4 separate regions of the Homo sapiens genome follow, and regions 2, 3 and 4 are each linked to region 1. The links come from fine-mapping of genetic effects on gene expression. A gene starts in region 1. Each other region holds a variant in brackets. All regions are shown on one strand. Distances are from middle to middle.

Region 1 (8,000 bases):
TGGGGACACGGGGCAGGGCGGTGGCTGGTGGCCCCATGACGTCTGCTTACGCCCACCCGGCTCTGCACACAGGTCTTTGGCATGATCTTCACGTGCTGCCTGTACAGGAGTCTCAAGCTGGAGCACTACTGACCCTGCCTTGGGCCTTGCTGCTGCTGCACCCAACTACTGAGCTGAGACCACTGAGTACCAGGGGCTGGGCTCCCTGATGACACCCACCCTGTGCCATCACCATAACCTCTGGGGACCCCAACCTCAGAGGCAGCTTCAAGTGCCTTTTGCTGCGCACCAATGCCCAGCAGGGGAGGTGAGGGGGGCTGGCGGGGCGAAGTTTGGGGGGTGTTTTGTGGGGCTCCCCAGACACACTCTCTGCCTGGTGGTCAGATGCAGGTTGGAAGGGGCCTTGCTGAGTGGCGCAAGGCCGAGCGTTCCCAGCAGGGGGAGAAACCCTTCACACCCCAGGCCCTTCAGGAACTGGGGCCTTGCCTTGCAGCCACATGGCCCCATCCCAGTTGGGGAAGCCAGGTGAGCTCTGACCCTTGGGCCTGGGCCTCTGCCCCTCCCAACCCAGCCCTCGTCTCCCTCGACAGCGCCCCTGCTGTCTTCCCCACCGCAGTCACCACCACCCGAAATGCCACGTGGTCACTGTGCACTGCCCTGTTCATGTGCCTCTGCGGGGCAGGGCCTTCCTGGTTTTGTTCACTGCTGTACCCAGATGCCTACAACCATCCCTGCCACATACAGGTGCTCAATAAACACTTGTAGAGCAGATGGACGAGCTCGCTGTGCTGGTAACAGATGGTGGTCTGTTCTCAGGGCCCTCGCATCCAGCAGGGCAGACAGACCCACCCCCGCCCCGCCCAGTGTCAGGACAAAGAAGGGCAGAGCCAGGAGGACACACCCCCCATGGGGCTCCAGGGAAGGGAGGTCTGATGCCAGGGACAGCTGAGCACAGGCCTCAGCAGAAAGAACTGAACATGTTCCTAAATGGTGAGATGGTGTGTTCAGAGCCCCTGGGGGAGAGGAAAAATGGTTTCCAAAACCCTTCTGGCCATGGTGGGGAGCAGACGTGGGAAGGGTGCAGACTGGGGGCCGTGCCCAGGTAAGAGGTGTCAGGCAGGTGGGGTGGGGGCAGTAGGGTGAGGGGGTTTACATGGAGGAGCCTATAGGCCCTGCTGGGGGCCAGAGGGTAGGAGGTACCAGAGCCTGGTGTCTGGCAGAGGTACCCTGGAGATGGGAGCCAGGGCTCGGTCACTGATTGTGCCCCCCACTGCCCAGGTTCCTGTCCTTAAGGCTCAGAACTGTAGACCCTCAGGCAGACCCGTTCTCCCCTACCAGAGGACACCACGCCAGATATCTGGGCAGCAGGGACATCTGACCTGGGGTGCTTGCTGGCAGCACTGCCTGGACAGCAGGGCCTCCTTAGGGCCACCTCCCAACCCAGCTAGGAGCGTCTTAAGGCCTGCCCTCCCTGCTGGGCTTGGGTGGGACGCTCAGGGACAGGCAGCAGTGGGCAGAGGCCAGCAGGTACTGGCAGCCCTGACCACAGCAGAGACTGGGCCCCAGAAAATCTGTTTCTCTCTTCTTTTTCATAGTTGTGTTGAGACAGAGTCTTACTCTGTTGCCCAGGCTGGAGTGCAGTGGTGCAAACACAGTTCACTGCAGTGGCAACCTCCCAGGTTCCAGTGATCCTCCTGCCTCAGCCCCGAGTGGCCGGGACTACAGGTGTGAACACTGTGCCCAGCTAATTTATTAAATTTTGTTGTAGAGATGGGGTCTCATTATGATGCCCAGGCGGGTCTTGAATTTCTGGACTCAAGTGATCCTCCTGCCTTGGCCTCCCAAAGTCCTGGGATTATAGGGGTGAGCCCCTTTGCCCGGCCTAAATCTGGCTCTTCAGATTCCGAGAGAGAGGGTACAGGAGCCTCTCTGCTCAGCCTGAAGAACACCCAGAAGGAGGGAACCTCAAAGAGCCCCGAGATGGAAGGCTCTCCTGGCAGCGCCTCCTGCAGGGGTGCCTGTGGAACAGGCTGGCCCCAGGGCTAGGAGAGTTCATGGCCCAGTCTGCTTCACTGGGCTGCCACAGTGTGAAAGCTGGGCCTAGACCTGGCTCCTGACATCCTAGTGAGGGCTGGGACCTTAGTGGTTCTGAAAGACCTTTACTGGATGGTTCCTTCCAGAGTGGGGTATCGGATACACACACACTGCGGCCAGGCATTACGCCAGCTCCCGGATGCCTCAGCCTCGTGAATTCGGGGCAGGACGCTCAGGGCCCATGGTCAGCACAGCGGGTGGGTGGGTTCCAGCGTGGTCACTTCTCCAGGGGTGCATAATTGAGCAGCTTCTCGATCAGGTCCACGTGGGCCAGCAGCATCCGGCGGCAGCAGTAGCGCTTCAGGCCCAGGGCATCCAGCGCATCCCTGTGTCGAGGGGAGGAGCAGAGGCCAACTGAGTTCTCTACGGTCTGCAAAGGCCTGGAGCCCACATCCAACCTGCCTCTCACTGCCTGCTGGCCTCACCCCCCCCGCCACCGGCAAGGCGAACAGATTCACCCGGCTCAGAAGCTGAGATCTAGCAGTATGATCCTGGCTGGAGTAACCTGGAAATGCCCAGAACCCTGGGTGGAGCGTGAGGAGCCTCCTCTCCCACCTACTCTGGCTGTACGTGTGTGTGTATAACGTATGTAAGAAATGTAAATGAAATGAAAACGAAGTAATTGCGGGGAGCTTAGAAAACCAAGACCACCAAGGTGCTGATGTGCAGCCACCTCATCCAGCACTGGCCACGGCAGGGTAGCTCTCCAGGGGCCTGCCCTTAGCTGGTTCACCCCCACCCCAGCCAGAGCAAGCCCTGCTCTGCCGCTGTGGGGTCTTTCCTCACCTCTGCTTCCTTCCATCAGAGAGAGACTGCTTCTCCACGGAGCCACCTCTCCCACTTCCCAAGCCAATTAGAAGCTTTCATTTCCCTGGGACCTAGCTCCAGTCACCCTCAAGACCTCCAGAAAACTCCCACACCGATGGCTCCAATGTGCAGAGACACAGAAGCTTGGGAAAGGGGAGGCCACATGGGAGGCCCCTGCCGTTCCTATCCGGGGAAAGGGTCTGGACAGGCCGCCAGCCACTCAGTCTAGCAGCCCACTCGCTTTCCTCGTTTGTCCAGCAAGCTGCACCAAGTGCCGATGGCAGGCTGGCGCACACAAGCCCAGGGCTTCACATGTGACGAAGACTCAGTGGGCGAGGGTCAGACTCCAGCGGGGGCACCAAGACTCAGGCACCGTGGTGACAGCAGCACCAAGGGACAAGCACAGGAGAAAGACGCCTCCCCTACAAAGCCTGATGAGGGTGGTCAGCAAGTCTACCCTGCATTTCTTTTTCTGTGTGTGTGTGTGCGTGAGACGGAGTTTCACTCTCTCTTCCAGGCTGGAGTGCAGTGGCGTGATCTTGGCTCACTGCAACCTCCACCTGCCTCCCAGACTCAAGCGATTTTCTCGTCTCAGCCTCCCAAGTAGCTGGGACCACAGGTGTGCACCGCCATGTCCGGCGAATTAAAAAGATAGAGCCAGGCGCGGTGGCTCACGCCTGTAACCTCAGCACTTTGGGAGGTCGAGGCGGGTGGATCACCTGAGGTCAGGAGTTCCAGACCAGCCTGGCCAACATGGCGAAATCCCATCTCTACTGAAAATACAAAAATTAGCCGGGCGTGGTGGCACACGCCTGTAGTCCCAGCTACTCGGGAGGCTGAGACAGGAGAATTGCTGGAGCCCAGGAGGCGGGGGTTGCAGTGAGCCGAGATCGCGCCACTGCACTCCAACCTGGGCGACGGAGCGAGACTCCGTCTCAAAAAAGAAAAATAAAATAAAATAAATTTCTGGAGATCAGGGTCTCCCCAGGTTGTCCAGGCTGGTCTCGACCTCCTGGGCTCAAGCAAGCCTCTCGCCTCGGCCTCCCAAACTGCTGGGATTACAGATGTCAGCCGCCGCGCCCGCCCGTCCTGCAGCGAGGTTTGCAGGACATGGGGTGGGCCTGGGGGCAGAGATGGGAATAGGGCGGAGGCCAAGGGCTTTACTGCGGGTGACAAGACGCCTGCGACCCGCCAGGCCACCTAGAATCCCCAGGACACCACTGGTTTGAAGCCCAACTCCGTTCTCTTCCCCAGACTTCAGGGGATAAGGTTCTCCCGAAAGCAGATCACAGAGCGGGGCTGGAGAAGCCGGGCCTGAAGCTGCTCATGGGGCGCTGGCCTCAGGCAGCGCTGCGCCTCCCGCCCCGGCGCGCACCCCAGGGCGGACTCAGCCCCCAGCCCCGGCCCGCGCCCCACGGCGGACTCAGCCCCTAGCCCCGGCCCGCGCCTCACCCCTCGGTGTACTCGGCCTGCAGCAGCCCCAGGTAAGCCTCCCACTTGTTGCCGACGATCTTGCCACAAGTGAAGCAGCGTACAGGGATGATCATGGCGGCGGCGCGTCCCAGACTGCCCGGCCCGGCCCGGCCGCACGCGAAGAACCCCCCCAGGCCCCGCCCCGGGCGCGTCCACTGTTGCGGGAGAATCGGCTCCGCTCGTTCTCCGCTGTTCCGGCCGTCCCTCCACCGGCCCCGCCACCGCTGGCCGCAGTTTCCGCCGCGATAGGGGCTTCCCGTGCGTCCCGGGGCTCCTGGGCCTGTGCGTCCCGGGGCTCCCGGGCCCGCGCGGCCGCGGCAGCAGCAGACCGCACACCCCCGCCCACCGTCTTGGTGCATCCCGGCGCTACGGCGTCTGAGCAGGGCCGTAAAGCTGCGGCGGCGGTTCGCGTTTCTCGTGTCCGCTTGACTGACAGCTGCGCGGCGGGAGCGGGCGGCGCGAGCGGGAGGCGGCGGCGCAGGTACTGCGCCTGGGGGTTGTGGGGGCGTGCGGCCAGGGTCCCGTGGCCGGAGGTGTCCGACCGGGAGCGGCTGGAGCCGGACGCGAGCGGGGCGCGCGAGTTCGAGCCCAGAGCCGACACGCAGCAACAAGTGGGGTCCGGCGCGGGGGCTCGGGGAGAGGGCGGGCGGGGGCCGGGGCGGGTCTTCCTGCCGCCCCTCCTGGCCGCGCCGAGTAGTGGGTTCCTCCGCCTCGGCCTCTGCCCGCGGGGTGTCCGGGGCTCTCGGCGCTGAGTTCGGGGGTCCCATTCTGGACGCGGCCCAGCCCCTAGGGGCGCCGCCCTGGCCTCAGCTGCGCAATTACAGCCCCCGCCGGCAGCTCCCCGCCCCGGGCTCCTGTCCGCGTTCTTTCCGCTCTTTCCCGGGAATGGGGTCGGGGTGCGCCCTCCCGGGTCCCGGCTCTGCTGGCTGCTCGCCGTCCCGAGCTCCCGACGCTCAGACGCGCCTCTGAGCACGGGGAGAGGGGACCCGGGAGGGAGGTCGGGGAGGGAGTCGTGGAAGAGGTGCTTTTTGAGCTGAACCTGGAAGACCCCGGCACAGGGGATCCCTGGGCAGACTCCCGGAGGCTGCACTGGCAGGACCCCCTGAAGGCCTCAGCTCTGGCTTGCCCTGGAGCTCAGGGCCTACGGACGACGAGGGACGAGGAGCCCGTGTCTCTCGGATGGAGTGCGGGGGGGCTGGCACCAGCACCCTTCTTGCTGTGCCCCTGGGGTGGGGGTGAGGAAATGGGGGGTCGGTGTGCAGTGAGAGGCAAAGAAGGCTCCTTGGAGGTGCGAGGTGGGCTGTGGGGGTGGGTGGGCCGCAAAGCGGCACCCATGGGGGGCTCTGGGCTGGTTTGCCGGCCTGGGGCTTCTGGCTGGGGTGGGACCTGTGTTGGGTTCCAGGCATCAGCTGCCGCTTTCTCAGGGCAATGCTGCGTCTGCCTTAGTTGCAGAGGAGGAGGACGAAGGGTTTTCTGGGTCCGGAGTGGTGCTAGCCAGATCCACTGCACGCTTGGGGTTTCCGCTCCCACCCTGGCCAGGGCCCTGGGCAGCTTCCCCAGTGGCATTTGCCATACCCCACCCAGCCACGTGCGGAGCCACGAGCCGAGGCCACTTCCCTTCCCTGACCCCCTCCCCCCAGGATGAGTGGACGCACATCCTGCTCTGGGCAGAAGGGCAGGACAGGGGCCCTGAGTAACGGTGGCCTGGGGTCAGAGCCAGGTTCAGCTGCGAGGCTGCTGGTGGCTGTGGAGGTGAGGGGGGCAGGGGGGTCCCGGATGTTAGCAGGGTGGGCCCTGGGGAGTGGGTGGGGGCCTGGAGGCTTCTTGGAGGAGGGTCCAGGGCCTGTCCCGCCCCTGTTCCTGCCTGCAGGAGTTGTTTACTCAGAGCAAGGGGTGGTGGGGAGTGAGCTGCTCTCCAAATCCTGGCTTGGGCCAAGCTGACATTCTTGGAATTCCGAGTGTGTGCGCTTCCTATCCCTCCATTTCCCAGCAGAGCCCCTGAGATCTGGAGACTGCCCCAGCCTCAGGCTCTGTGCATCTCCCCCGAGCCCCCACCACATATGTGCGGAGGCCCCTGGGGGCCCAGGCCTGTCCTCAGTCCCGACTGGGCTCTACCTGAGGACCCTGGGGAGCCTGGGCCTGGCCCTCCTCAGGCAAGCGGGGGTGGGAGGGAGCCTGGTGGCGGGGCAGGGCACTGTGCCCGCCAGCAGGGGCGGGTGGGGGCCCCTCTCTCCTGGGTGTGGAGTGTTGGCGCAGACTCGGCCTGGCTTCTGGGGGGGGGGGTCTGGGATGGGGCCAGGAGGGTGAGGCGCTGGTTTTATAGAAGGGGGCGTTGTGGAGCCTCCTGTGGTCAGGGCAGGGCACAGGGAGCAGAGGGTGGGCTCCCCCGGCTGCTTCCTGCTAGAGGAGGGATCACTTCAGGGCAAAGGACCAGGGGAAACCCATGATTGAAGTTTTAGCTGCTGACCCCTCCCACCCTGGGTGTTGCCCTGGAAACAGGCCAGCCACGGGACCAGGAGGGCTGGGAGGGGGAGCACGGGCTGAGCCCTGGCTGGGATTCAGCTGAACTTGCACTCTGGTCTGGGATCCCAGCCCACGTTTCCCTGTCTGTAAAGCTCAGGTGGGATCAGAAACTGCCCGCCCGGAGGGCTGCATCCCTCCTGCCGCTGAGGCTGGGCATGACCTTGACTGGGAGAGGGTGTTGAAGGTGTCTGTCCCCAGCCTCGCCCCCACACCTGTGCTCTCTGGCCCTGTCCATGCCTGGGACAGATGTGTGCTCACCCCCAGGGTGCTGTGGGATGGGGTGGGTGCACACGGCGCCACGAGCACACGTGCCCGACACCTCAGCGGTGCACACAGCCAAGGCCACTGCCCACCGTACCCACGCCGTCCGTGTCCTCTCTACGGTCCTGGGAGACTGGCGTTGTGAGCAGTGGGGCCTGTAGATGGGGCCGGGTCCTCTCTACGGTCCTGGGAGACCGGCGCTGTGAGCGGTGGGGCCTGTAGATGGGGCCGAGACTGAACTGACCCTAGCCTCACCACTCATATGTCGGGGCTGGTGATATTTGGGAATGTCACTGCCTGCCATGCAGCTGCCCAGGCCTGATGTGCCCCCCCAGACTGTTCTATAGGGGTCTAGGTTGCAGGGGCCAGGGCCAGGGCTGTGGTGGGATGGCACCTGAGGTGCGGCTGCTCCTGGAGCCTGGGGGGTGTGGGAAGGTGCCCCCCACCCAGGGTCCTAAGTCTGTTGCCTTCACCCCCGACTCCCAGCAGATAAATACCCAACAGTGCAGGAAAGGATTACAGGGAAGGCCTGGAGTGTGGGGTTAGCCTCGGTGGTCCCAGGAGGAAAGACTGGGGGACCTCTGGACTATCTGTCCCTCCCCTGGGGCTGCTGGGGGTATCAGAGTGGTGTCTCCAGCCTCCAGGGCTCAGGTTTGGGTGGGAGGGGCCTGGTCCCACCCAGACTCTGTATGTAGCCCCCAGTCCCTGCTCCTCTGTGTGCATGAGGGAGTGCCAGCTTGCTTGGGACCCCCCAGGGTGAGGGCTTGGGACGGGCACTGGGGCCCCGCAGGGGCTGAGGCAGCCAGGAAGCCCACAGCATAGGCTGTTTGTGTTGGCGGGCC
Region 2 (8,000 bases), 24 kb after region 1:
AAAAAATTAACCGGGTGTGGTGGGGGCATGCCTGTAATCCCAGCTACTTGGGAGGCTGAGGCAGGAGAATCACTTGAACCTGGGAGGCGGAGGAGGTTGCAGTGAGCCCAGATGGTGCCACTGCACTCCAGCCTGAGCAACAGGGTGAGACTCCATCTCCAAAAAAAGAAAAAAAGAAAGAAATCATAACCAGGAGCAGAGTGTGAGGGAATCAGCGTTTCTCCTGCCACGAGTGACAGGGGACAGCTGGGGACATCACAGAGATCTTGTCGGGAGCTGGGAATCGGAATCCTGGGACCACCTGCCAGGAAGCCCCATCCCGGAGTGAGGGCAGGGCTGGGTCTCCCTGACAGCACAGTCTGGAAAGGCTGGAGTGGCCTGTCAGGTGGGGAGTGAGCCTTCTGCCCTGCGCAGACCAGACGGTGAAGCGGGGTTAGGGGTGTGCAGACTGCGTCCTGGGGCCTAAGATCCCGTCCCTTTGGCTCCAGGCCAGGGGTTGGGCGGATCCCTCCTAGAGGGAGTGGTTCAGAGGCACAAGGGAGCCTCCCCGACTGTGGCCATGGAGTGTGGGTTTGGGGATGGGGTGCCAGCCCAGGGTGTCGGGAAAGACTGGCCTGCCCTGGACACCCCCCCGGGCTGCCGTGGGATCTAGCAGGACTCTGGGTGGTTCTGGCTCAGGCTGGCAGGCGGCATGGCTTTGGGCTTGTGGGCCGGGCTCTGCCCTGGGGTCCAGAGCTTGCATTGGGGCCTCACCCTGTCTGTGTCTCTCCTGTTGCTGTGCCCCAGCTGGGAGGCTGTGGCGTGCTGGGTGTCGGCATCTGGCTGGCCGCCACACAGGGGAGCTTCGCCACGCTGTCCTCTTCCTTCCCGTCCCTGTCGGCTGCCAACTTGCTCATCATCACCGGCGCCTTTGTCATGGCCATCGGCTTCGTGGGCTGCCTGGGTGCCATCAAGGAGAACAAGTGCCTCCTGCTCACTGTGAGTGCCGGGGCCCAAGCGATGCTCCGGGTGGGACCACGCAGGGTGGGGCTCCGGTGGCCCCCAGGCCTTGGCTGCCGCAGTGACCCCCCAGACGTGGGCACCACCTCTGGGGCCGGACCTCCAGGCTGGCAGTGTGGCCCGGGGCCCTGGCCACTGTTGGGTCTTCCAGGCCACACTGGGGCTGGGGGGTGATTTGCAGAGCGGTGTGGGGGTCACTCAAGAGAACGTGCTGTACCTTGTCAGGGGCCTCCCCTGACGGGACACTGGCCCTGGTGAGTGCAGGCACAGCCCCGCACACACGTACACACGCATGCGCAGCCTTTCACGGGCTTGCGGTCTCCGTGACTCATTCCTGACCACCCCACCCCCACTGTGGCCCCTTCCCCAGCTTCTTGTTGGGGGCCTGGTCTCTCAGCTCCCTGGGACCGGCTGCTGGGACGATCCCAGCCCCCACCTCGCCTCGGGGATGGACTTACAGGCAGGGATATGTTTATCCTCCTTAGAAATGTTAATCACAGATAATTAAAAAGGAAAAGGGCTCCTAGATGGAAACACAGGCTTGCTACTGATTAACATGCCTGGCCGAGGCCGTGGGCCCTGCGGAGGGTGTGCAGCCTGCTGAGGTCCTAAATCACGAGGCTTCCGATCACTCCTTTGTCTGGGAAGCCCTGGATGGGTTGGGGCCTCCCTTAGGTCGCCTCAGCCAGTCCACTCCCCTCCGTACCCCTTCCTGGGGGCAAGCCCCAAGTCTATCAGCCTCCCTGGCATCAGGTTGGGGCCCAGAGACCCCTGGAGGCAGTCGGTGGGGGTCTGTGGCAGCCCTACTGGGGCTTGGAGCTCCTCAGTTGAGGAAGCTGCTGTGTGTGGGCCCCACCAGGCCTGCAGGGACCGAAGCCCAACCCCCTTTCCCATGGGTGACTTGGGACCAGAACCCTGGGTACCTCCTGGGGGTGAAGGACTCCTGTGTCCTTAGCCCAGCACCCTGTCTGCCCCACTCACGCCCACTCTGCCTGGGCCCCCCAGCTCCTGGACACATGCTGTCCATGCCTGCCCTCCTCTTTTGTGGGTGTCACTGACCCCCGCATGGAGGAGCAGCAGGGCTGGGGTCAGGCTGAGCTTTGGGGCTGCCGCCAGGCGGGGGAAGCTTGCATGGTCAGAGGTGGGGCTTGCAGCCTGTGGTCTTGCTGGAGGGGGCATCAGCCACGCTGGCTGCCCTGAGGACTGTGACGTGTGGGCAGAAGGGGCCTCTGCAGCCCAGCTGTGGCCCCTGCTGGGACATCTTCCCACCATGAAGACAGGCACCCAGCGAGGCACCTGCCAGACACTCAGAGGCCCCTGGATGGAGGTGTCCTGAAGGCAGCTGACAGGGGCTGGGGCCTCAGGAACAGGGATTTGTGCCCACTTGGGGGTGTCTGGGTTGCCCCAGGGATGGGGGCAGGGGAGGGGAGCCCAGGCCAGCCCAGGGCCCCACACTCAGGGGCTGAGCAGGACACAACAGCCACAGTCCCTGGACCTGGGGCCAAGGGTTCTGAGGTGGGGGCGGCGTTCTGGGCTCTCTGGGAGTGGGGGCCTGGCAGAGGTTTCCTGGCAGCACCAGGTATCCATGAGGTACGTGGCCCTGGCCCCTGGCATGCTGTGGGGCGGAGGCTGTGCGGCCTTTCGGGTCCCTGTCTGAGCCTGCCCCCTCCACAGTTCTTCCTGCTGCTGCTGCTGGTGTTCCTGCTGGAGGCCACCATCGCCATCCTCTTCTTCGCCTACACGGACAAGGTACGGCTGCCTTGGCCGCAGGCCCAACTGCAGGGCTGGGGGCTCCATCCTCACTCCCAGGGAGCACTGTGGGCCCGGTGTGGACAGAGTGGCCCTGCATGTGCCCTCACGGGCAGCCAGGACAGCGGGTGTGGATTTACCAGGCCTGGAGGGGCAGCGCCAGCGACCCTGGGAGGCTGTGCTGTGGCTCTATAGCGACTGGGGCACAAGGGCACTGCTACCCCACCCGGAGGGTGCGCCCCAGGTTGTCCCCCGCCCTCTGACGCAGCGTCCTGAGCCGTCTGCTCCCAGCGCCCCATCCGGGCCGCGCACCGTGGGGTTCTCCTCTGTAGAGCGGCCTCTTCTTGGTCACTCACTCATATATTCAGCCATTTGTTTATACTGGGATGAAGTCCTGGCTATTGAGGTTGCACTCCGAGCTAGAACACACTACTTTGTTTTGTGAATCACACTGTCCGTCCTTGGCCCTGGGGAGCTTCTGCCGTCTGCTGCTGGGTCCCCTGACGTGCCCCCATCAACAGACTTTTCATTTTGGGGCACGTCCTGACTTCCTGGCACTGCAGGGCGCTCCAGGCTCCTTCATTCCCTGCCCTGGCCCAGGAATCAGCCCCTTCTCCAGGGTGCTCTGGGTCCTCACTGAATATTGGGGACCGAGGCCAGGGTGCTGGGTGGGCTCAGCGCTCATAGCCCCTGGCTTTCAGCTCACAGAGCATGGCTGCACGTGTCCCGATACGTGGAGGCACCTGTGTCCCTGTCCTCTGTCCCCCCAGGACCCATGGTCCTCCCCCAGCCTGGGGAGGAAGCCCAGAGGTGGGGGCCCTGGGCCTCAGGGCTGCTGGGAGGACATGGGGCCGGTGTGTCTGCAGCTTGGTGGGCTAGGAGGCGCGGGGGACACAAGACCAGGCGCAGGAGGGGCCCAGCTTAGGGGCCGGCGAGGGGGTCTGGATGAGGGAGGCGGGGTACAGTGGGAGGGGCCCTGCTGACCCCCCCCGCACCCCCAGATTGACAGGTATGCCCAGCAAGACCTGAAGAAAGGCTTGCACCTGTACGGCACGCAGGGCAACGTGGGCCTCACCAACGCCTGGAGCATCATCCAGACCGACGTGAGGCGTGGGCAGGTGGGCGGGGTCGGCGGGTGCCCCCTCCCCTCCTGCCTCAGCCCGACCTGAGCTTGCCCCCCAGTTCCGCTGCTGTGGCGTCTCCAACTACACTGACTGGTTCGAGGTGTACAACGCCACGCGGGTACCTGACTCCTGCTGCTTGGAGTTCAGTGAGAGCTGTGGGCTGCACGCCCCCGGCACCTGGTGGAAGGCGGTGAGTGAGACCCCCACCCTGGGGGCTGGTAGGGGCCTAGAGGGCGGGACCAGCAGGCCCTGCCGTGACACGCATGACATCCCTCCCTGCAGCCGTGCTACGAGACGGTGAAGGTGTGGCTTCAGGAGAACCTGCTGGCTGTGGGCATCTTTGGGCTGTGCACGGCGCTGGTGCAGGTATGGCCTGGGGGCCTGCGGGCTCCCTGCCCCCACTTTGTTAGGACCTTCTGAGCCCAGGGAACAAAGTAGCAAAGACCTTGCCCCCAGGAACCCACGATCGGGGGAGGCCGGGGCAAAAGCAGGAGGGC[G/A]AGTTCAGGGGGATGGGCAGGGACGGCCTGTGGGGACAGTGGGCTCCCTCTTAGTGGACAGAGGCAGAGGCTGGTGTGGGGTGGAGGCCGGTGGTCGTCCATGTTGGTCGGTGGCCCAGGACTGGCCAGTGCACAGAGGGTGGCAGCTGGGGCCCTGGTGCCAGTGGCCCCTGGTTTCCAAACTCCACAGCCCTCAGGAAGTTCTGGGTGTCCTCATGCCTGCAAGGCTCAGGGGAGGGTGCTGTGGCTCGAGCCACAGGGGTTGGGTGGGGCGTGCAAGCCACCAGGAAGCTGAAGGGCTCTGCCACTGTGTCGCCCACCCTGGGGTCGGGGTCAGGGCCAGGGCACCTGCTGAGGACAGGGACTGCTCTGGGCTTGAGGCCTGAGCCTGTGGAGCTGCCATGCCCAGTCCTCCTCCCCTACCTACAGATCCTGGGCCTGACCTTCGCCATGACCATGTACTGCCAAGTGGTCAAGGCAGACACCTACTGCGCGTAGGCCGCCCACCGCCCGCTTCTCTGCCAAAAGGACGCCCACGGGGAGATGGCCGCACCCACAGCTGCCTTTCCCACCACCAGCCTCGGTGCTCTGCCCCATGCTGGGAGGAGGGAGGGAGGGACAGGTGCCTGGAGCCCCCGGAACCCTGTTTCTGGAAGGCCCTAGCTCAGGTGGCTTCAGGGCCTCCGGACCCCCCCTGGGAGGGGTGGCCACGTGCTGGCTGCGGAACCCAGGGCAGGGGTGGGAGGGGCCTCCAGCACTTTTTATATTTACGTATTCTCCAAAGCAGTGTTCACACGGGAGCCAGCCTGTGGCCCCCAGCCTCCTGGAAAACAGGTTGGCGCTGGAGGAGCCGGGTCTTGGCATCCTGGAGGTGGCCCCACTGGTCCTGGTGCTCCAGGCGGGGCCGTGGACCCCTCACCTACATTCCATAGTGGGCCCGTGGGGCTCCTGGTGCATCTTAATAAAGTGTGAGCAGCAACCTTGCGTCTATTGCTCGTCTGCCTTCCCTACCCTATCTTCCCTTCTGGCACCCAGGCCTGGGGCAGGGCAGCCTCTGGCATGAACGGTGCTTAGGCAGAGCCCTGGGGCTGTGGGGTCACCTGGTGCACAGGCTTGGGGGAGCTGCCTGCAGAGCAGTCTCCAGACCTCTGGTTTTAAGGAAATCATGACATTAGCTCTAAGAAGTGATGAGGCCGGGTGCAGTGACTCACACCTGTAATCCCTTCGGCTTTGGGAGGCCAAAGTGGGTGGATAACCTGAGGTCAGGAGTTTGAGACCAGCCTGGCCAACATGGTGAAACCCTGTCTCTACTAAAAATAAAAAATTAGCCGGGCGTGGTGGCGGGCGCCTGTAATTCCAGCTACTTGGGAGGCTGAGGCAGGAGAATCGCTTGATTCCAGGAGATGGAGGTTGCAACGAGCCGAGATCGCACCACTGCACTCTAGCCTGGATGACACAGGAAGAGTCCATCTCAAAAAAAAAAAAAAAAAAAGTAATAAAAAATAAAGTGCCAAGGCCCCTGGGGGGCCGTCCCTGAACTGCCAGCCTTTGCTAGGGGTGGCCTCCCTCTGCTTCACCCCCCCACCCCGGGGGCTCCTCCTGAGGCGGGCCTCCCTCCACATCGCCCCCTACCCTGGGGCCTGCTGTCGAGGCGGGGCTGTGCTTTTCCCCTATTTTGTTCCTAGAACTCTGCCCCTTTAAGTGAGCTGGCAGCACAAAGCACCTGTCACAGGGCATGAAAAAAAATGCATCAAGGTGCCTCAGGATTCTCACAGCCAGGGGTGAGGGTTGTGTGGGGACCCTGGCCACAGGGATGACGGTCAGTTCAGGTTGGGGCATCTGATCCCCAAACTGCACCCCACAATCTCATTTCCAGCTAATTCCTGCCCCACCCTCTGCCCATCCCCCCGGGAGACACAGCCCGCTCTAGACATCCCATCCTGTGTGGCATCCCCACCCCTGCCTCCACCCAATGCTGATCTGGCAATGCCTAGCTCCAGGCCCACACCACCCTCCCAGACCTGCGTGTCCCCCACCCTCACTCCAACAGAAGCCACAGGACCCCCGAGAACAACTTGAATGTTAGCGTCAGCACCTCTGGGGAGACAAGGTCAGTGCCCCAAAGCCAGTGGCAGCTTGTGTTTTTTTAGACAAGGTTTTTGGAGTGCAGTCGGTCACAGCTCACTGCAGCCTCAACCTCATCAAGCGATCCTCCCATCTCAGCCTCCTGAGTAGCCAGGAGTACAGGCACATGCCACCATGTCTTGCTAATTTTTCTATTTTTAGGGGGTAGAGACGGGGTTTCACCATGTTGCCCAGCGTTCCTCCCGCCACGGCTTTCCAAAGTACTGGGATTACAGGCATGAACCGCCGCACACACCACTTGTATCTCCTATGCCCGTGTCAAGCAGCAGCAGGGCGGTGGGAACGGCTGCACCTGCACTGTGGCAGCTCGCAGGCCTCCCTGACGTCCAGGCGGAGGCTTTCTCAAGTGTGGGTGCCTTGGGTCCGACCCAGGACCCCCTCCCCAGCTCCCGTCCTGTGGAGGAGACCCCACCATGCTTCCTCACCACCGGCTGGAGATGTCCTGACCCCCTGCCCACTGCGCCCTAACATTACTGACTCTAAACCAGAACCCAGTGCCCACCCTGTCCTCACCGTCCTCACCCCACGGCATTCTGAGTGAGGGACGCCCAGGCCCACCCACTCCCTGGACTCACTTCTGTCCCCCCGAGAGACCTTGCCCGGGACATGTACCCACCTATGCCCTCTACTGCCCACCTCAGCCCTGTGGGACCCAGTGGTGAGGAGGGGAGTCCTCACGGCCAGCCAAGGACAGGATGGTGACGAGGGGCAGGGGAACGAGGGCCACCAGGCCTTGGCTCATGATGCCTCCAAATTCCCCAGGGCCTCCCCAGAGCCTGGACACCGCTGCATGGCAGGGTGGGTGTAGCCTGCCAGCCACATGTCCTCTGCCCCACCCCTCGCTGGAAATGCCTGTCCCGATATGGCCCACGGGTCCTGCCGTTGCCCCTCACCATGCTCCCTGATGTGTCCAGGCTGGCCTGGGGGTCGTGCTACCTGAGGCGGCAGAGCTGAGCCAAGGTCCAGGACCAGTTTCAAGAGGGTGGGCCAGGCTCCTCTGAGCCCATTTCTAGGGCAGCCCCTGCACCCTTGCCGTGCTGGACTCGGTGGGGACGTCTGGGTGGCTCTCTGCAGGTGACACACGTGCTGTGGCTGGCCAGGTGGGTGGCAGGTATGTGGGGGTGGAGCTCTCAGCTCTATCACTGCCAGGCCCTGGGGTGATGCTGGGCAGAGCTGTCCCTGCGAGGGCCCTCGAATCCAGGAGTGGGCGAGTCCGGGATGGTTCCAGAGCTTCCAAACCCACATCCAGCCCAGGATGTGAGAAGCAGCCCAGAAAGGCCTGAGCCAGGCTGTCCTGGTGGGGCAGGTACTGTGGGCCCCGCCTGCCCAGCTGACAGGAGGCAGCCAGCGGATGCCCGGGTGGGAGGGGCTCGAGCTCTCAGGGTGTCCCCCAGCTAGGACTCATCCAGGGCAGGGACCCCTCATGGGAGGATGGGGAGTCACATGGTGCCCAGGACCCCCGACTGAGGACTGCAGCAGACCCGTC
Region 3 (8,000 bases), 570 kb before region 1:
ATGATCCACCCGCCTTGGCCTCCCAAAGTGCTGGGATTACAGGCATGAGCCACTGCACCTGGCCAAACAAATGATATTTTTAAAAGCATAAAAAATATCAAATGTAAGATGGGCATAATATTTACATAGAAAACTATAAAACATTCTAGAGAGATGTTTTTTAAATGCCTTAAATAATTGGTAGGTTATATTATATTCATGAATTTTAAAATAGATTACTTTGACAATTTTTATTCTCCCCAAATGGAACTATAGGTTCAGTAAAATTCCAACCAAAATCCCAACAGGTTTTCCATTAGTGGGAATTCAAAGGCTAATTCTAAGATGAAAGCAGAAATGTGAAGGACAAGAATAGCTAAGACAGCCATGAACATGAACAAGAATAAAGGTGGCGAACTGACACCCCAGACTTATTATCAAGCTATAGTGATAAGTATAGACAGTGTGGTAATGGCACAAATAGATCAGCGTCACAGAATGTCTGTATAATTGCCCCAGAATTGGTCTGTGGTACCACACTAAATGATTCACAGAGATTCTTTGTGGAAAGAACAGTGACTTTCATGGAGGGAAAGGTCATTTTCACTTTTTATTTCATACATATTTATACTATTAGATTTTCTTAAAATTAACATATTCAGTCATTGCCTATAAAATTTAAAATAATGCCAGTGGGGGAAGCCCTCTGGCGCTTCCATTGCCTGTTTGAAAGTTACTGGGCTCACTTGTTCGGGAAACATCAGCTGCTCCCACTGGGTGCCAGGCCCTGTTCTAGGTGCTTGGGAAGTGTCAGTGAGCAAAACAGACAAATCTCCAGCCCACATGGAGGGGTGAGGAGCAAGGAGGAGGAGTGAGGAGCAAGGAGGAAGGGCAAGGAGCGAGGAGGAGTGGGGAGAAGTGAGGAGGAGGGGGGAGGAGCGAAGAGGAGGGGGAGGAGCGAGGGGGAGGAGCGAGGAGGAGGGGGAGGAGCGAGGAGGGGGGAGGAGCGAGGAGGGGGGAGGAGCGAGGAGGGGGGAGGAGCGAGGAGGGGGGAGGAGCGAGGAGGAGGGGGGGCGAGGAGGAGGGGGAGGGGCGAGGAGGGAGGGGAGGGGGAGGGAGAGGGGAGGAGCAACGAGGAGGGGGGAGGAGCAAGGAGGGGGGAGGAGCGAGGAGGGGAGGAGGGGGAGGGGCGAGGAGGAGGCGGGAGGAGCTGGACAGGACATCGTGCCAGCCCGAGGGCGGAATGAACTTCAGAGAAGTTTGAGAGCAAAAGGTGCTTTGCTGCTGTTAGACCCTGAAATTCCACGGGTCCCTGGACAGTTTTGGGAGCCGGGAGGGTGAAGAGAGTGGATCAAGCTTCGTGGGGTGGACCCGGAAGAGATGGGGCAGTGAATGGTTCTGGGGGACTGCGGGAGCCTCCGGGGAGTGATTTTTTGCCCTGAGGGGAATCACCGCAGCGGGGACAAGGCTGGGGGAAAACACTTCCTTCTGCAAGGGCACTGCTGAGCCTCACTTGCTGGAGCTTGCACTGTGCAACGGTAAATTCACGTTGTGTGCCCTCACCTGAGCTTCTGATGAGGACGCTGGAGGGCTTGGCCCTTTGAAGTCCTCACCTGTCCCTCCTTGGGCTGGGGGTGGTGACTAGGAGGGGCTGCACGGCTGCTGCCCGGGTTGGTCCCGGCCATCCCAGCTCCCTGGTAAATAGGCTTCTCAAACTAGGATACCTGGGCCTTGGGCGTTACCTGCAAACCCTGTTCCTCGCTCTAGTTCCCCACTTCCATCCCTCCTCTTGCCTCAGCCCTTCTCATCTCACACGCCACATGGGATCCACCCTTTTTACGCATGTGCAGAGCGTGGCCCCTCTCTGATTCCCTTCCCCTCAGGAGAGCCGGACGTCTCCCTCCCTCACACCCTCCCCAGCCCCACAGCAGCCCAGGGAGCCTTGCCCGCTCCTCGGCCCCCCTGGCTCTCCCAGCCACCCAGGCCTCCTGTGTCCTGAGTGGGCCAGCTCCTGCCAGACCACGGCCCTGCCCTGCACCTGACTGCGTCCCCACCGCGGACCTGCCCCCTCGTTTATTCTCCTCTCTCCGCTCTGCTCTGTCCTTGGCACTGTTTTTGTTTGTTTTTTGTTTTTGTTTTTTGAGACGCAGTCTCGCTCTGTCACACAGGCTGGAGTGCAGTGGCGTGATCTCTGCTCACTGCAATCTCTGCCTCCTGGGTTCAAACTATTTTCTTGCCTCAGCCTCACGAGTAGCTGGGATTACAGATGCCCGCCACCACGCCTGGCTAATTTTTGTATTTTTAGTAGAGACGGGGTTTCACCATGTTGGCCAGGCTGATCTCGAACTCCTGACCTCAAGTGATCCGCCCGCCTCTGCCTCCCAAAGTGCTGGGATCACAGATATGAGCCACCGCGCCCCGCCCTTGGCACTGTTTAATCCATGTGTTGTTTATTTATGTATCCTGTTTATTTTCTGTCTCCCAACAAAGACGTAGCTCCTTCTGGGTAGGGCATTTTGTTCATGCTCTCAGATGCCGCCTACCGCCCTAGAGCAGGAAATAGCGGTCAGCGCCAGCTGTGAGGAGCACAGCATTGCGGCCAACACAGGAGGCACTGACCACGGGGCAGGCGCTATTTAAAAATCGTGGCAAAGGATCAGACGTAACAGAACTCTTTTTGTTTTAATCATTTTTAAGTGTGCAGTTCAATGATGTTAGTTACATGCACAATATTGTGTAACCATCACCACTATTTCCAAAATCCTTTCTATCCGTCAGACAGAAACTCCGTCCCCATTAAACAGCAACTCTGCATTCCTCCGTCCCCCCAGCCTCTGGTCACGTGTCTCATCTACTTTCAGTCTCTACGGATTTGCCTGTTCTAATTATTTCATAGAAGTGGATTCATACAGTACGTGTCCTTCTGTGTCAGGTTCATGTCACTCAGCGTGATGTGCCCAAGGTTCACCCATGCGTCGGGCTCTCATTCCTGAATCGCATTTCTCTGTACGGATAGACTGAGTTTTGTTTGTCTGTTCACCTGTTTAGGAACACTTGGTTGCTTCCACATTTTGACTGTTATGAATAACGCTACTAGCAAAGTGAACACGAGTGTGGTTTCAGTTCCTGTTTTCAATTCTTCCGCGTCTTTTAAGAAAAAACAAACTGTTTTCAACAGTTGCATCATTTTACCGTCCCACCAGCAACATGGGAGGCTTCCCATCACTTGTTTTCTTCATGTTTGTTTTGTTTAGTTGCATAATAATTGCCATCCTAGTGGAGGTAAGAAGGTATCTCACTGTTCTTTTCATTTGCATTTTTGTAATGACTAACGAGGTTGGGCAACTTTTCACGTGCTTGTCAGTCATTCGCATCTTTTTTTTTTTTTGAGAAATGTCTATTCAAGTCCTTTGCTCATTTTGAAATTGTGCTGTTTGGGTTTTGGTTGTTGATTTGAAGGAGTCCTTTTTATATTACGTATATGAATCCTTACCAGATATATGATTCGCAAACATTTTCTCCCATTCTGTGGTGATCTCTTCAGCCCCTTGATAGTGTCCTTTGATGCACAAAAGATTTTAATTTTGATGAAGTACAATTTATCTTTTTGTTGTTGTTGTCATTGCCCATGCTTTTGGTGTTATATCTAAGAATCCAAGGTCGGCCGGGCACGGTGGCTCACGCCTGTAATCGCAGCACTTTGGGAGGCCGAGGCAGGTGGATCACTTGAGGTCAGGAGTTTGAGACCAGCCTGGCCAACATGGTGAAACCCCATCTCTACTAAAAATACAAAAATTAGCCGGGCATGGTGGCAGGCGCCTGTAATCTCAGCTACTAGGTAGGCTGAGGCAGGAGCATCGCTTGAACACAGGAGGTGGAAGTTGCAGTGAGCCGGGATCGCGCCATTGCAATGCAGCCTGGGTAATGGAGCAAACTCCGTCTCAAAAAAAAAAAAATAATAATAATAATCATCATCATCATCATCCAAGGTCATGAAGATTTCCCTACATTTTTTCCTAAGTGTTTTATGGTTTTAGTTCTTAAATGTCAGCCTTGGTCCATTTCCAGTTGATTTATGTGAAGGAGGAGGCCCCGCTCCACTCAGGCCCGACTCTTAGTGTTTTAATATCACCACTTTGAGATCACAACCACCTTAGGGAGCAGGAACCGTCCATCCACAGACACAGAAACTCACCTAGAGTGTGTCCAGGGTCACAGAGTGACCAGTGAGTGGCAGAGCCAGGAGCTGGACCAGCCACCCACTCAACAGGGTGCACAGGACCCCAGACCCCCAGGCTTTACCGCCTCTGGACACCAATGCACAAGAGAGTAAACTTGGGGAGTACCTTAGGCAGGTGGTCAGAGGCCTCGGGAGAGGAGACATTTGAGCAGAGAAGGGAGGTGGTGTGGCAGCCGTGTGGACCTGCTGTGGGTGTGTGCACCAGAGCTGTGCTGGTGAGCGAGGAGGAACTACCCAGGAGGGCACACTGGACCAGGGAGAGCCAGCCCGACGGGGGCCAGCTGCCTTTCCCAGCAGGCAGCGGTGTGACCCTCGGGGCAGGGGCTCGGTCCACTGTAGCACAGGGGAT[C/T]GGGAGGCAGAGGGTCCCCGGGCCTGTAATGAGGAGGAGGCGGGACCCAGGTCCTGGTGGGCTCCCGAAGTGCAGCAGGAAGGGCCCTAGTGCTTCCATGTCACCACCCTGATGGCCTTGGCAGCTGGGAGAGCCCCCTGCCCTGCAGGGCAAGAGGGATTTTCCGCCCCAAGGGAGAGCGTCATATGCCCAGGAGGCAGTTCTGCCTCTGGCTCTTTGCTCCTCCCAGGCCTCCTGTCCTCTATGTCCTTGGAAGTAAAGGGGACAGGTCCTGGGGCTCCACAAAGATAGGCACCTCCTCTCATCCACCTAATGAGGCAAAAGAGGGGGTTCTGCCTCTGAGGCTGAGGGGCCCAGCCCCCTCTGGAAAGAGAGTCCCACTCATGCCCCTCCACCAGGCCCCACCAACAGGAGGCCCTGGCGGCAAGGCCCTGCCTCCCCAGTGAAGACCACCAGGGCCTGGGGGCCAGGGAGGGAGGCTGCCCCCGGCTGGTGAAGGGACACCCCACAGCCACCAGCGGCCACGATTAATCCACACTTGGGGACAGCTTTCGTTCTGAGCAGCTCAGCTCTGAGAGGGAATTGGATACAGGATGGATACCTTGCGGGCTCCTGTTCTCCGAGGGTGGCAAGGGTTGGTGGCATGATGACCCTGATAAGACTTTACGGCCCCTGTTCTCCAGGGTGGGGCAGATCAATTGCTGTTCTCAAGGTCCTGCCAGGGGCCCTTCCTGAAGAAACAAGCAGAGGCTTTGATTTCCTGACCTATCTCGGGAAAACACTTGAGCTAATAATTAATCAGATTATGGATACACTGGCTTTTTTTGTCTTATTTTTTAAATTGTGGTAAAATTTATATAACATAAAATATACCATTTTAACCATTGCTAAGTGTGCATGAAGTACATTCACATCGTTCACCCATCACCATCGTCCCTCTCCAGAGCTTTCTCATCTTCCCAAACTGAGACTCTCTCCCCATTAAACACCCATTTCCCATCCCCTTCCCACAGCCCTGGCCCCTGCTGTTCTACTCTCTCTGTGAGTCGGAGGCTCTAGGGGCCTCAGGTAAGTGCTAACACACAGCATTTGTCCTTCTGTGTCTGGCTTATTCAATGTCCTCAGGGCCGTCCATGTTGCAGCTGTGTCCAGGTTCCCTTCCGTGTTGAGGCCGTCTTACTTTTGAGACCAGTTTGAACCTTTCTTTCTTCGGCTGCTCTAGCAGGTTTCCTGGTACAGTGAGTGCCCAATGGAACGAGCATTTGACCAGCAGCTTCATGGGGGAGGCGCTTTCTCTCTGGGTCTCTGTGGGGAAGGGAAAGACCTTCCTTAAGGAGCACTGGACGCCCAGCACCTGCCTTGGAGGACAGTTTGCTTTCGTGGAAGATTGGGCCACAGAGAGCATTGCTGTGGAAGGAGGCGTCAGAAGTGGGGCCAAGTGCACGTTGCCCTTCCACCTGCGGCCTTGGAGACAGGTCCAAGGTGTACGAGTTACGAAGGCCTTGGGCCGCATGAAACCGAAACCCACAGGAGAGTCGTTCTCCCAGAACAAAGCCCCGAGGTGGCCTCCCAGCTGCCAGAGTCATCTCCTCTGGCTCCTGGGCCTGGGCATTGCTCGTGGACCTCCAAGTTTTGTGTCCATGTCCAAGAGGACAAAGACGGAGGGAGGCCAAGAGCCAACGGCCGTGGCAGCTCCACCCACCACCCAAGCCCACCCAGCAGGCTCCCTTTCCCCTCATTGCCCAGACTGTGTCCCAAGGTCACCTTCTGCAAAGTTTTATGGGGAAGCACTTTGCTGATCCACACACACAGGGTTCTGTCGGTAAGAAGAGGGGAAGATGGACCTCGGGTTGGCAGCAAGCAGGTCCTGCCACTTTTGGTTCCATTTGGGACCCCCAAAGGCTCTGGGGTGAATCGTCCCAGAAGGAGAGGTTGATGAGTTGATGAGGCGGGGTCTTCGGCGCCGCCCCCAAGAGGAGCGCAGAGGAGAGAGAGGGCTAGCATCGAGGAGAGAGGTGTGGGGGGTCAGAATGTTGGGGGCCCAGGGGAGAAGGACAGAGGAAGCGGATGACAGTGTAGTACCAAAGGGCTGTCGATGAGTGACAGGAACAGAGGGGGAATTTTCAGCTGCTGTCCGGAGTGTAGGACTCTGTGCAGAAGGGTACAAGCCTAAAGGGTTTCTTCAAGGAAAACTGTGCTCTGTGACATGGGTAGACCCTGGTACTGTCCCTTTGCGGAAGCGGAACACAGATCGCCATTGTCTTTTGAACCGAACTGAAGATTTCTGGAAGCAGCTGTGGCCCCTGGGTCATGAGGCTGTTTAGATTTATATGGGTTCCATTGAGGATTCTCAGGGATTTTGGACCTAAATTTGGTAACTGTTGCACCTCGAACTGAAATATCATCCCACCATTGAGCAGAAGGACAGCATCCCTAGCCTGGGCAACATAGGGAGACCTTGTCTCTAAATAAATAAATAAAAATTAACCAGATGTGTTGATGCATGCCTATAGTTCTAGCTACTTGGAAGGCTGAGTGGGAAGGATCCCTTGAGCCCAGGAGTTTGAGGTTGCAGTGAGCTAAGATCGCACCACTGCACTCTAGCCTGGGCGACAGAGTAAGACCTTGTCTCTAAAAAAAAAAAAAAGAAAGAAAGAAAAGAAAAAAACAAAGAAAAAAGAAAGAAAGATAATTCTTTGTATATTTTGGATAACAGTCCTTTATCAAATATGTGTTTTGCAAATATTTTATCCCAGTGTGTGGCTTGTCTCCTCATTCTCTTAATACTATCTATTCCAGGGCAGAAGTTGTACATTTTAATGAAGCCCACTTATCAATTGTTTCTTTTATGCACCATGCTTTGGTCTATCTTCTAAAAGTTTTGTTGTTTTGCACTTAACATTTGGGTCTATGATATAATTTGAGTTAAATTTTGTGAAACATTTAAAGTCTGTGTTTAGATTTTTTTATTTGTTTTTCATGAGACTATCCAATTGTTCCAGCATCATTTGTTGAAAAGACTATCCTTTTCCTTTGAATTGGCTTTGCTCCTTTTTCACAGATCACTTGACTATATTTGTGTGTGCCAATTCTGGGCTCTGTATTCTGTTCCACTGATTTATCTGTACAGTCTTTTGCCAATATCACTATGCTGATTGCTGTAGCTTTACAGTAAGTCTTGAACCGAGCAGCGTCAGTCCTCTGACTTTGTTCTTCTTCAGTATCATGTTGGTTATTCTGAGTCTTTTGCATTTCCATATAAATCTTACAGGTTTTTTTTTGTTTTGTTCTGTTTGTTTTGTTTTGTTTTTAGAGGAAGGGTCTTGCTGTCACCCAGGCTGGAGTGCAATAGCATGACCTTGGCCTACAACAGCCTCAATCTCTAGGGCTCAAGCAATTCTCCCACCTCAGCCTCCCAAGTAGCTGGGGTTA
Region 4 (8,000 bases), 59 kb after region 1:
CACCCCAGACGTGAGGCTGTCTCAGCACCCCTAGCCTCCACCCCAGACGTGTGGCTGTCTCAGTGCCCCCAGCCTCCACCCCAGACACAATGAGCCTGTCTCAGGGCCCCCAGCCTCCACCACAGAAACTAAGCTGTCTCAGGGCCCCCAGACTCCACCCCAGACACGAGCCTGTCTCAGCACCCCCAGCCTCCACCCCAGACACGAGCCTGTCTCAGCACCCCCAGCCTCCACCCCAGACACAACGAGCCTGTCTCAGCACCCCCAGCCTCCATCCCAGACACGAGCCTGTCTCAGCACCCCCAGCCTCCACCCGACACAACGAGCCTGTCTCAGCACCTGCAGCCTCCACCCCAGACACGAGCCTGTCTCAGCACCTGCAGCCTCCACCCCAGACACGAGCCTGTCTCAGCACCCCCAGCCTCCACCCCGACACGAGCCTGTCTCAGCACCCCCAGCCTCCACCCCAGACACGAGCCTGTCTCAGCACCCCCAGCCTCCACCCCAGACACGAGCCTGTCTCAGCACCCCCAGCCTCCACCCCAGACACGAGGCTGTCTCAGCACCTCCAGCCTCCACCCCAGACAAGAGGCTATCTCCTGAGGAGCCTCTGGTGCCATCTCACTGCCTACCTAATGCTCTGAAACGGAAATGAGTGTGGCAAATCTCTGGTTAATAGACCCACTCTCCCAGGATTAGTGAGAAGGCTGGAAGCAGGCGGGCTCTGTCTCCTGCTGAGACACCCCTCTCCTCAGAGGGTAATGGAAGGTCAGCCCCGGCAGGGTCCACTGCCCACGGCTCAGCAAGAACCCCCCAAGGCAGGGCCTGGGATTGTCCCTCAGCCAGGAACGCAGGCACCTGATCCTCCGGCAAAGCTGGGGCCCCTCAGAGGCTGTGCAGACGACAGGCTCCCCATAGCCTTGCGGACATCCTTACCCCCACTGCAGTGCGCCTCCCAGCCTCCCTTCACACAGCTCCTTGTCTTCCTGCTGCTGCCAGGCCTCCCAGGAGGGAAGCAGACAGAGGAGCCTCTTGGACACATCCGGTGGGGGGCACACTGAGGGGTGCTGGCTGAGGGAGTGGGGTCTGGGCACCAGGATCCAGTGGGCAACCACATTGAGGGGTGCTGGCGGAGGGTGTGGGGATCTGGGCACCAGGATCCAGTGGGGAACCACACTGAGGGGTGCTGGCGGAGGGTGTGGGGGTCTGGACACCAGGAAACAGGACTCCAGGGCTCTTCTGGAGCCGGGGCCTGGGAGCAGTTCCGGGAAGAGCCTTGGACTGCTGCCTCCCAGCCAGTGAGTCCCTCAGAGCACAGTGGGAGGAGCGGCAGGGCTGCAGAGGCTGGAGCCACTCACAGGGGCAGGGCCTGTACCGGCTCCAGGCTGAGGGTCCTCTGAGCCCCTGGGCAGGAATCCTGCCCTACCCCTCATGGGCTCTGCCTCAACAATGTCCCTTCCCTCCCTCAAGCTTAAGATCTGTGTGGGGACGCTGCCCCAGGTGGGCAGAGCCTGGACCTGCAGCTCCTTTGCCCACAGCAGCAATGGGATGAAAGTGCCATGGCTGCTGCAGGGGACACCATGCAGCCTGAGCTCAGGCCCGGGCTCTTAAAGCCCAACCAGAACTACTTCAGGTGGTGGGGGCGGGGGAGCCGATTCCAGAACCCACGGCTCACACAGAAGGCTGAAGGGCTGGACAGCTGCCATAGGGCTCTGCTGTCCAGGCACCCGCGGTGGAGACCGCACCATCCTCGCTCGTTGCAACCAGTGGAGTGAGAGGAGTCCACCTGTCCTGAGCATGTCGAGGACGCCCCCTACCAACATCCTGGGGAGCAGTACTGTCCCCCTGCTATCTTTTGCGGGGCAGTCGCCCACTTTGGCAGAACAGGGAAGGTAGCTGTTTCGGTGAGTTGGCAGGGCTGCTTGGGCAGGACCAAGGAAGGGCCATTCCTCAGGGCTGTGGTCAGTCCAGTCCAGGCCAGGTGGGGGAGCCATGGCACTTCCTATCACTCCCTCCGTTCCTGGTCATGTGGCCCACAGGGAGTGGGAACCCGCGAGGGTCATGGGTGGGCTGGGCTCTGATGTGGCAAAAGGAGGCGTGAGGGAGTGCTGTGGCCGCCTCCCGGTGGAGTGGACTGCTACAAAGCCTGGGGGCCTGGGAGGCATTCCCCAGAGGCCGCCATGGCGGTCCACACCACGGGTCCTGGCCGTGCTCAGGGACACCCCCAGGAAGGCTCCCCGAAGCTCAGTGAGGAGTTTCTGCTTGTGTCCAAGCTCAACCTGCTGTCACCATCTGGGCCATCTTTCTCTTGCCAAGACCTCATGAATGAGGGTCCTCGAGTTCCTCTGACCGCCCAAGGGAGGCATCAGGCCTGGCGCAGCAATGCGCTCGGAGCCGGCTGCCTGCCACAGGCTGCTTCCACTTTTCTGTTCGGAGCCGGCTGCCTGCCACAGGCTGCTTCCACTTCTCTGAGCAGGTGTCCATCTTTTGTGCAGCCCCGTCCCCACCCCAGGCACAGGGACTGTGGAAGGAAGGCCCTCCCCAAACCCCTGGTCTTTCCTCCAGCCTCCTTCAAACACCAGGGCCAGGAGGAGGGCCACCCACCACCACCTGTGCCCACTCACACGCGCTTCTGGCTTAGCAGCTGGTTCCAGACCTCCACCACGAAGCCATCGAAATGCTGGTTCTGAAAGAAGCAGTCACAGGTGAGGAGGGCCTGGAGGCCCAGGAGGGATGGGTGGAAAGACAAGAAGCCCGCCACCTCGGCCCACATGGTCAGGTTGTGGCCTGGTCACTCACGAGGCAAGACCCAAGCCTGGGCTGTATGCCCAGAAGGGCCTGTCTGAAGGAGGAAGTGTGGGGGTCCCAGAGGAACAGGAGTGGAGGGGCCAGTGGTCTCGTGCATTCTGCCGACCCATGCACCTCCCCCAACCCCACCCCGGGGGTCTGGGGGCTCCCTGACCCGAGGCCCAGGCATACTGGCAGCCAGCAGGGCTGGGTCCCCTCCCAGGAGGGTAGCAGGCAGCTGGGCTTTGCCCAAGGGAAGAACCCTGGCCCAGCAGACAGGTCTCCCATGCCTGGGACCTCCAGAGGACCCATGGTCAAGAAAGCGAGCAGCAGCCTGAGCCTGGCTGATGCTGCCTTCCCTGGAAGATGGGGGCTGCACCAGAAGGTGCCCAGGGCAGAAGACAGAAAAGCCGAGTGGAGGCCTCGCGGGAGGCCCAGCCAGACGGCCAGGTGGGACCCGGGGGGCTGTGCTCAGAGGCTGGAGCAGCACACAGGTCTCACCTTTGCCACCTGGACCACGGTCTTGCTCAGCTCCTCTATCTCATCCTCACTGTCTAAGACGTTCCGGAAATCATCGTAAGTCCAGTCCTCAAACAGGAGCCGAGGCACTGCAGGGGCAACAGACACACACGGGGGCCGTGACTGGGAGATGCTGGAGGGCCCCTGCTGTTTGCTGCCTCAAAAAGGCATCCCCTTGGCCTCCAGAGGGAAGTGAGACCAGACAGTGAGGGGCAGGGAGGCCACCTGGAGCACCCACATGTCCAGAGAGGATGTCCCAGAGCCTCACAGGCTGGAGAGGGAGGGGTGGTGGGGAAGGAGCGAGCAGACACTGACAGTCCTGGTCCCCTGACACCAGCTCCCCACACGGCTCAGCATGGTTGTGGCCCCACCTTACAGGAGGGAGGCTGGGACAGACTCTGGCTGCTCCAGCTCAGCCCTGTCACCTGCTTCTAGCATCCCCCAGAGTCTCTCCCTTGGCAACTTGTGCTCTTAATCCACTGCCTCTGAGGCTGCTACTGGACGTGGGGACACATGTCCCCCCTTCCCCAGCCGTGAGCTACAGGGGCACAGATGGGCCAGGGTCAGCATCACCCTCAGGCCAAGCCCAGGGCTTGGCCCCAGCTGCCCTGATAGGACTCATCATGTGAATGAAGGAAGAAATGGGATTGAGAACAATTAGGGCAATGCCACTGGCCAAGGAGGTGCTGGCTTTGGAGGGCCACAGCCTGTGTGGGGAGGAGAGCTCAGGACTCCAGCCAGACTAAGGGCTGTGAATGCCAGGCCAGGGCCAGCCTCATCTCTGAGC[G/A]GTCAAAGTAACCTGTGCCGCAGCAGCACAGCCGGGTGATCAGGAACACGTGGAGACCCCAGTGCCCACCTGTCCACCCCCGCAGTTTGAGCCATCAGGGCCTCCACTCCTGGCCTGCCGCACTTACCTATGTGCAGGCCCTTGGCATGCTTCCTGACAGCTCGCATCCACCCTGTGGGACATGGAGGGGACAGTCAACACAGGCACGTGCGCCCAACTGGAAGACCCAGCCTACCTGAGGAGGAAAACGTGGCAGCCGCACAATACGCAATGGGAAGGGCAGGGGCGGGCAGGCAGGTGTGAGAACCCACCCCTCCCTGGCCCAGGGCTGGCTCTCCACACCCTCTTCCTGACCCCAACTCTCCACCCTTCTGGCCAAGGCCCCCTTCCTGACCCTGCAGAGCAGCTCTGAGCTTACCCTCCCTGAGCTGGGACAGCTCAGAGCCTGTGGCCGGCCAGGGGAACAGGCAGCTGCATCCTAGGGCCTGGGGACGGTCAGGGTTTCTCCGAGCTGAGGGATGGCCAGACCCGCCAGGCCCTGACACTGGCTGACATTCCATCACCTCCCCACGGTTCTCTCAGTGTCAGGGAAAACCACTCCTGCTCTCTGAACTCCAAAACTGCCTAACACTTCCCCTGCCATTTCTCTCTGTCCGAGCCCAAACGCAAGGCGCAGCCACGTAAACTCGGGCAGACGTCATCAGGTCAGGATGTGCCATCAGGAGGCAGCCTCCGCCTGAACCCCACCTTCCTCCCTGGCATTGAATGAAAATCGCTGAGAGAGGGACAGAGGAGGAGAAGCCAATGGCCCGTGCCGTTTGCTGCCCAGAGGCTGCCTGAGTCATTGTAGAGCCTGTCCTGCACACGCCTGTGTGCAGCCCGGAAGTGCAAGGGAAGGCCACCCTCACAGCCACCTGGACCACACGCAGACCTGGGCGGAACACTCTGAGGCACCAACTTGGCCTTGCAGAGGGTCCCACCGTGGCGACCACCTCAGAAACCCCCTCTACCAGGCCTGCCCTGCTCCACACTCACCTTCCCACTTAGCACACCAGCCCACACCATGGGCCTGCTCTGCCGGCTGGGCCCCAAGGGGTGAGGGCGTGGTTCTCACAGTCACCACACTCAACACTCACACCCACTGTCTCACACTTAGACATGTCCACACCGACAGTCACATTCAACACACTCACAATCTCTTCTCTCCCACATCATCAGTCTCACACTTACACACTCACATTCACACTTAAATCACGCAGAGACACACACACACTCCCATACAGAGACACCCACAGAGACATACCTACTCACACACACACACCCCTGCTCTCGCACTCACACTCTTTTCAGCCTGTGGGGCAAGCACAGTCAAGCAGGAAGGATGAGAACCTTGGTCCACGTCGTGGAGGCCCGTGACCTCAAACATCTCACGGCCACGTCTCTTCAGCTGCAGCCAGACGGGTGAGATCTGTGTGAACTTGCTCCCAAAGACCTTGGTGACATCGTAGCCATGGCTGTTCCACTGGCAAAAGATGGAGACATCAGACGGAGGACAGGTGAGTGAGCACCTGTCTCACCATGGTGCTGTCATTCTGGCGCCTCTGGACGTGCCCAGGGCTGGCCAGCGTAGACAGATACCAGCCCGGACTGACATCAGCTCCTGGCCTGGGGTATCCTTCTCCTACTCTGGACTGCCACTCACAGCCTGGGACCCAGGCCACGACATCCCTTTCACCAAAAGTGACTGGTGCTTGTCTTAAGCCCCACCTGGAGCTAGTGCACACCACTGCTGCAGGCTGGCAGCTGGGAACAGCAAGAGAAGAGGAGGCTGGGTGTGAGAACCCACCCCTCCCTGGCCCAGGGTTGGCTCTGCACATCCACTTCCTGACCCCAGACGACCTGCGAGCCCACCTCTGGATTCAGGGGGAACCCACAGAGATCAGCACAGCAAGCCCCTGGAGAGACCCCCAGGGTCTTACACTCTGACATCTCCAGAATGGCATCTCTCCCACCGTAGCCTCACAGCAGCAGCAGCTCCGGGAGATCAGAACATAGACCCCCATCACTGACTGGCCAGAAGAGGCCATCACGGGGCCAGGGCAGCCCACCTGAGCCTCAGGACCTCCCTCTGCACTGTGAGGGCCCCAACTTACTGGAGTGACATAGCCCAGTACATCCCCAGCAAAGTGTCTGTCCCGGGCCTTTGCCGAGCAGTAGCTGCGATGCTCAAGAACCACACTCTCAGCTTTGAGGTCCGTCACCACCAAACCCCGGTCTTGCACCGGCTTATCTGAAAACTGACTCTGAAATAAAAGGAGTGAGAGAAAAGCCTCAGTCATCTGTCCACAGTGTAGAGCACAGAGCCCCACCCAGCAAGTCCCTTCCATTCAGCCAGCAGCCGAGTCTCTGGATCCACACAGTGCTGCTGACCCGGAGACCCTGTATGTTGAGGATCGAGGCCACAGCAGGCAATTCAATTCAGAAGCACTCTGGCCGTCAACAGACACTGGCCGACGGTACAGGGCCTTTCCCACCCTTGCTCCGGGCTGGAAGGCAGGCAGGCAGACAGACAGTTATGGTGGCTCCCTCCTTGCATGTGAGGGTGGACGGTCTGCACCAGCTCTGGCCACTCGATACCCATCCGGGCACTCCAGGGCCATACGCTTTGCTGGACAAGAACATGCCAGGTGCGCTGGGTGCATTGGCTCACGCCTGTAATCCCAGAACTTTGGGAGGCCGAGGCAGGTGGATCACCTGAGATCAGGAGTTGGAGACCAGCCTGGTCAACATGGTGAAACCCCATCTCTACTAAATATGCAAAAATTAGCCAGGCATGGTGGCGGGCACCTGTAGTCCCAGCTACTCGGGAGGCTGAAGCAGGAGAATCGCTTGAACCTGGGTGGCAGAGGTTGCGGTGAGCCAAGATCGCGCCATTGCGCTCCAGCCTGGGCAACAAGAGCAAAACTTCACCTCAAAAAAAAAAAGAAAAGAACATGCCAGGCACACGCCACCATGCTGGCCAACCACTGCCTGCCACCGCCCCCGCCAACGTGACCCTGCTGGCCAACCACTGCCTGCCACCGCCCCCGCCAATACGACCCTACTGGCCAACCACTGCCTGCCACCACCCCCACCAATGCAACCCTGCTGGTCAACCACTGCCTGCCACCCCCCTGGCCAATGCGAGTCTTTTCCTGCCATGTCACACCTGCCCCTACTCCACCTCTGCTCCTGGAAACCTTCCATCCAGTTATCAACTTGTCTCTTCTGTCCACACTCTGTGGCCCGGCTCAGCCTCCCCTTGACCTCGCCCCAAGCGGCCCCGTGAGAGAGAGATGTCCACTGCATGGTTTATTTGCCCCCATACAGCACAGAGAAAGCATCTGCCAGTCCAGGACTAGGTCACAGTTACAGTCCTGTGGCAGGGTCTGGCCAGCGGCATGGGGACTGCTGGGGCTGAGAGGTGGTTCTATGAGTTTACACCCTTGAAGGTGCAATCCCCAGGGCCATCCCAGGGGAACGTCCCAAAAAGCATGAGGCAAACACAGCTCAAGGCCATGATAAAGACAGCAAGATGAAGATGCAGGTGATATAAACGAGAGGTAGAGCATGGAAACTGGCAACTGGCACATAAAACAAGCCCCACGTGGGGTGAGTGGGGAGGCACCCTGCTTGCCCTCAAAACCTGGCTCCAGAGGCTGCTCACTCAGAGGTGCTGACTGGCCAGAGCCCCAGAGCCACACAGGCCACCCACCGGCTGCGGGCTCATCAGGTGCCTTTGTGAGGAGCCAAGCCCCTCGAGCCTCCTGGCTCACAGGCCCCAGTGGACAGAAAGAAGAGGATGATGGATCAGCCCTCAGCCAGTACAGTCACCTCAAGTCCCCAGGCCACCCTTACCTTCTCCAGC

The links.
Region 2: its variant is fine-mapped to the expression of TSPAN4 in whole blood (TOPMed, PIP above 0.99).
Region 3: its variant is fine-mapped to the expression of TSPAN4 in nucleus accumbens (GTEx, PIP 0.96).
Region 4: its variant is fine-mapped to the expression of TSPAN4 in nucleus accumbens (GTEx, PIP 0.99).

Annotation. Positions count from the first base shown.
Region 1 is chr11:838,061-846,060 of GRCh38, forward strand. It overlaps TSPAN4 (tetraspanin 4), which reads left to right and starts at 4,792. Exons shown (of 9, transcript NM_003271.5): 1 at 4,792-4,855. It overlaps CD151 (CD151 molecule (Raph blood group)), which reads left to right. Exons shown (of 9, transcript NM_004357.5): 9 at 73-771. The coding sequence ends at 132. It overlaps POLR2L (RNA polymerase II, I and III subunit L), which reads right to left and starts at 4,469. Exons shown (of 2, transcript NM_021128.5): 1 at 4,354-4,469; 2 at 1,661-2,420. The coding sequence starts at 4,448. The coding sequence ends at 2,312. RefSeq lists enhancers at 1-900, 2,728-3,472, 3,473-4,218, 4,219-4,962 and silencers at 1,953-2,002, 4,231-4,860, 4,971-5,060, 5,081-5,310, 5,296-5,464.
Region 2 is chr11:861,764-869,763 of GRCh38, forward strand. TSPAN4 (tetraspanin 4) reads left to right here. Exons shown (of 9, transcript NM_003271.5): 4 at 787-978; 5 at 2,674-2,748; 6 at 3,750-3,851; 7 at 3,931-4,062; 8 at 4,155-4,238; 9 at 4,799-5,348. The coding sequence ends at 4,867. It overlaps CHID1 (chitinase domain containing 1), which reads right to left. Exons shown (of 13, transcript NM_023947.4): 13 at 6,096-8,000. Among named protein-coding and RNA genes, the nearest start is that of TSPAN4, 23 kb to the left of the region's middle. RefSeq lists enhancers at 1,966-2,499, 4,100-4,633. The variant G/A (reference allele first, on the strand shown) is at 4,370.
Region 3 is chr11:266,401-274,400 of GRCh38, forward strand. No RefSeq gene overlaps it. Among named protein-coding and RNA genes, the nearest start is that of NLRP6, 8.0 kb to the right of the region's middle. RefSeq lists an enhancer at 3,080-3,149. The variant C/T (reference allele first, on the strand shown) is at 4,569.
Region 4 is chr11:896,716-904,715 of GRCh38, forward strand. It overlaps CHID1 (chitinase domain containing 1), which reads right to left. Exons shown (of 13, transcript NM_023947.4): 2 at 7,991-8,000; 3 at 6,247-6,396; 4 at 5,483-5,615; 5 at 4,221-4,265; 6 at 3,289-3,395; 7 at 2,625-2,686. Among named protein-coding and RNA genes, the nearest start is that of CHID1, 10 kb to the right of the region's middle. RefSeq lists an enhancer at 895-1,405 and a silencer at 6,705-6,875. The variant G/A (reference allele first, on the strand shown) is at 4,094.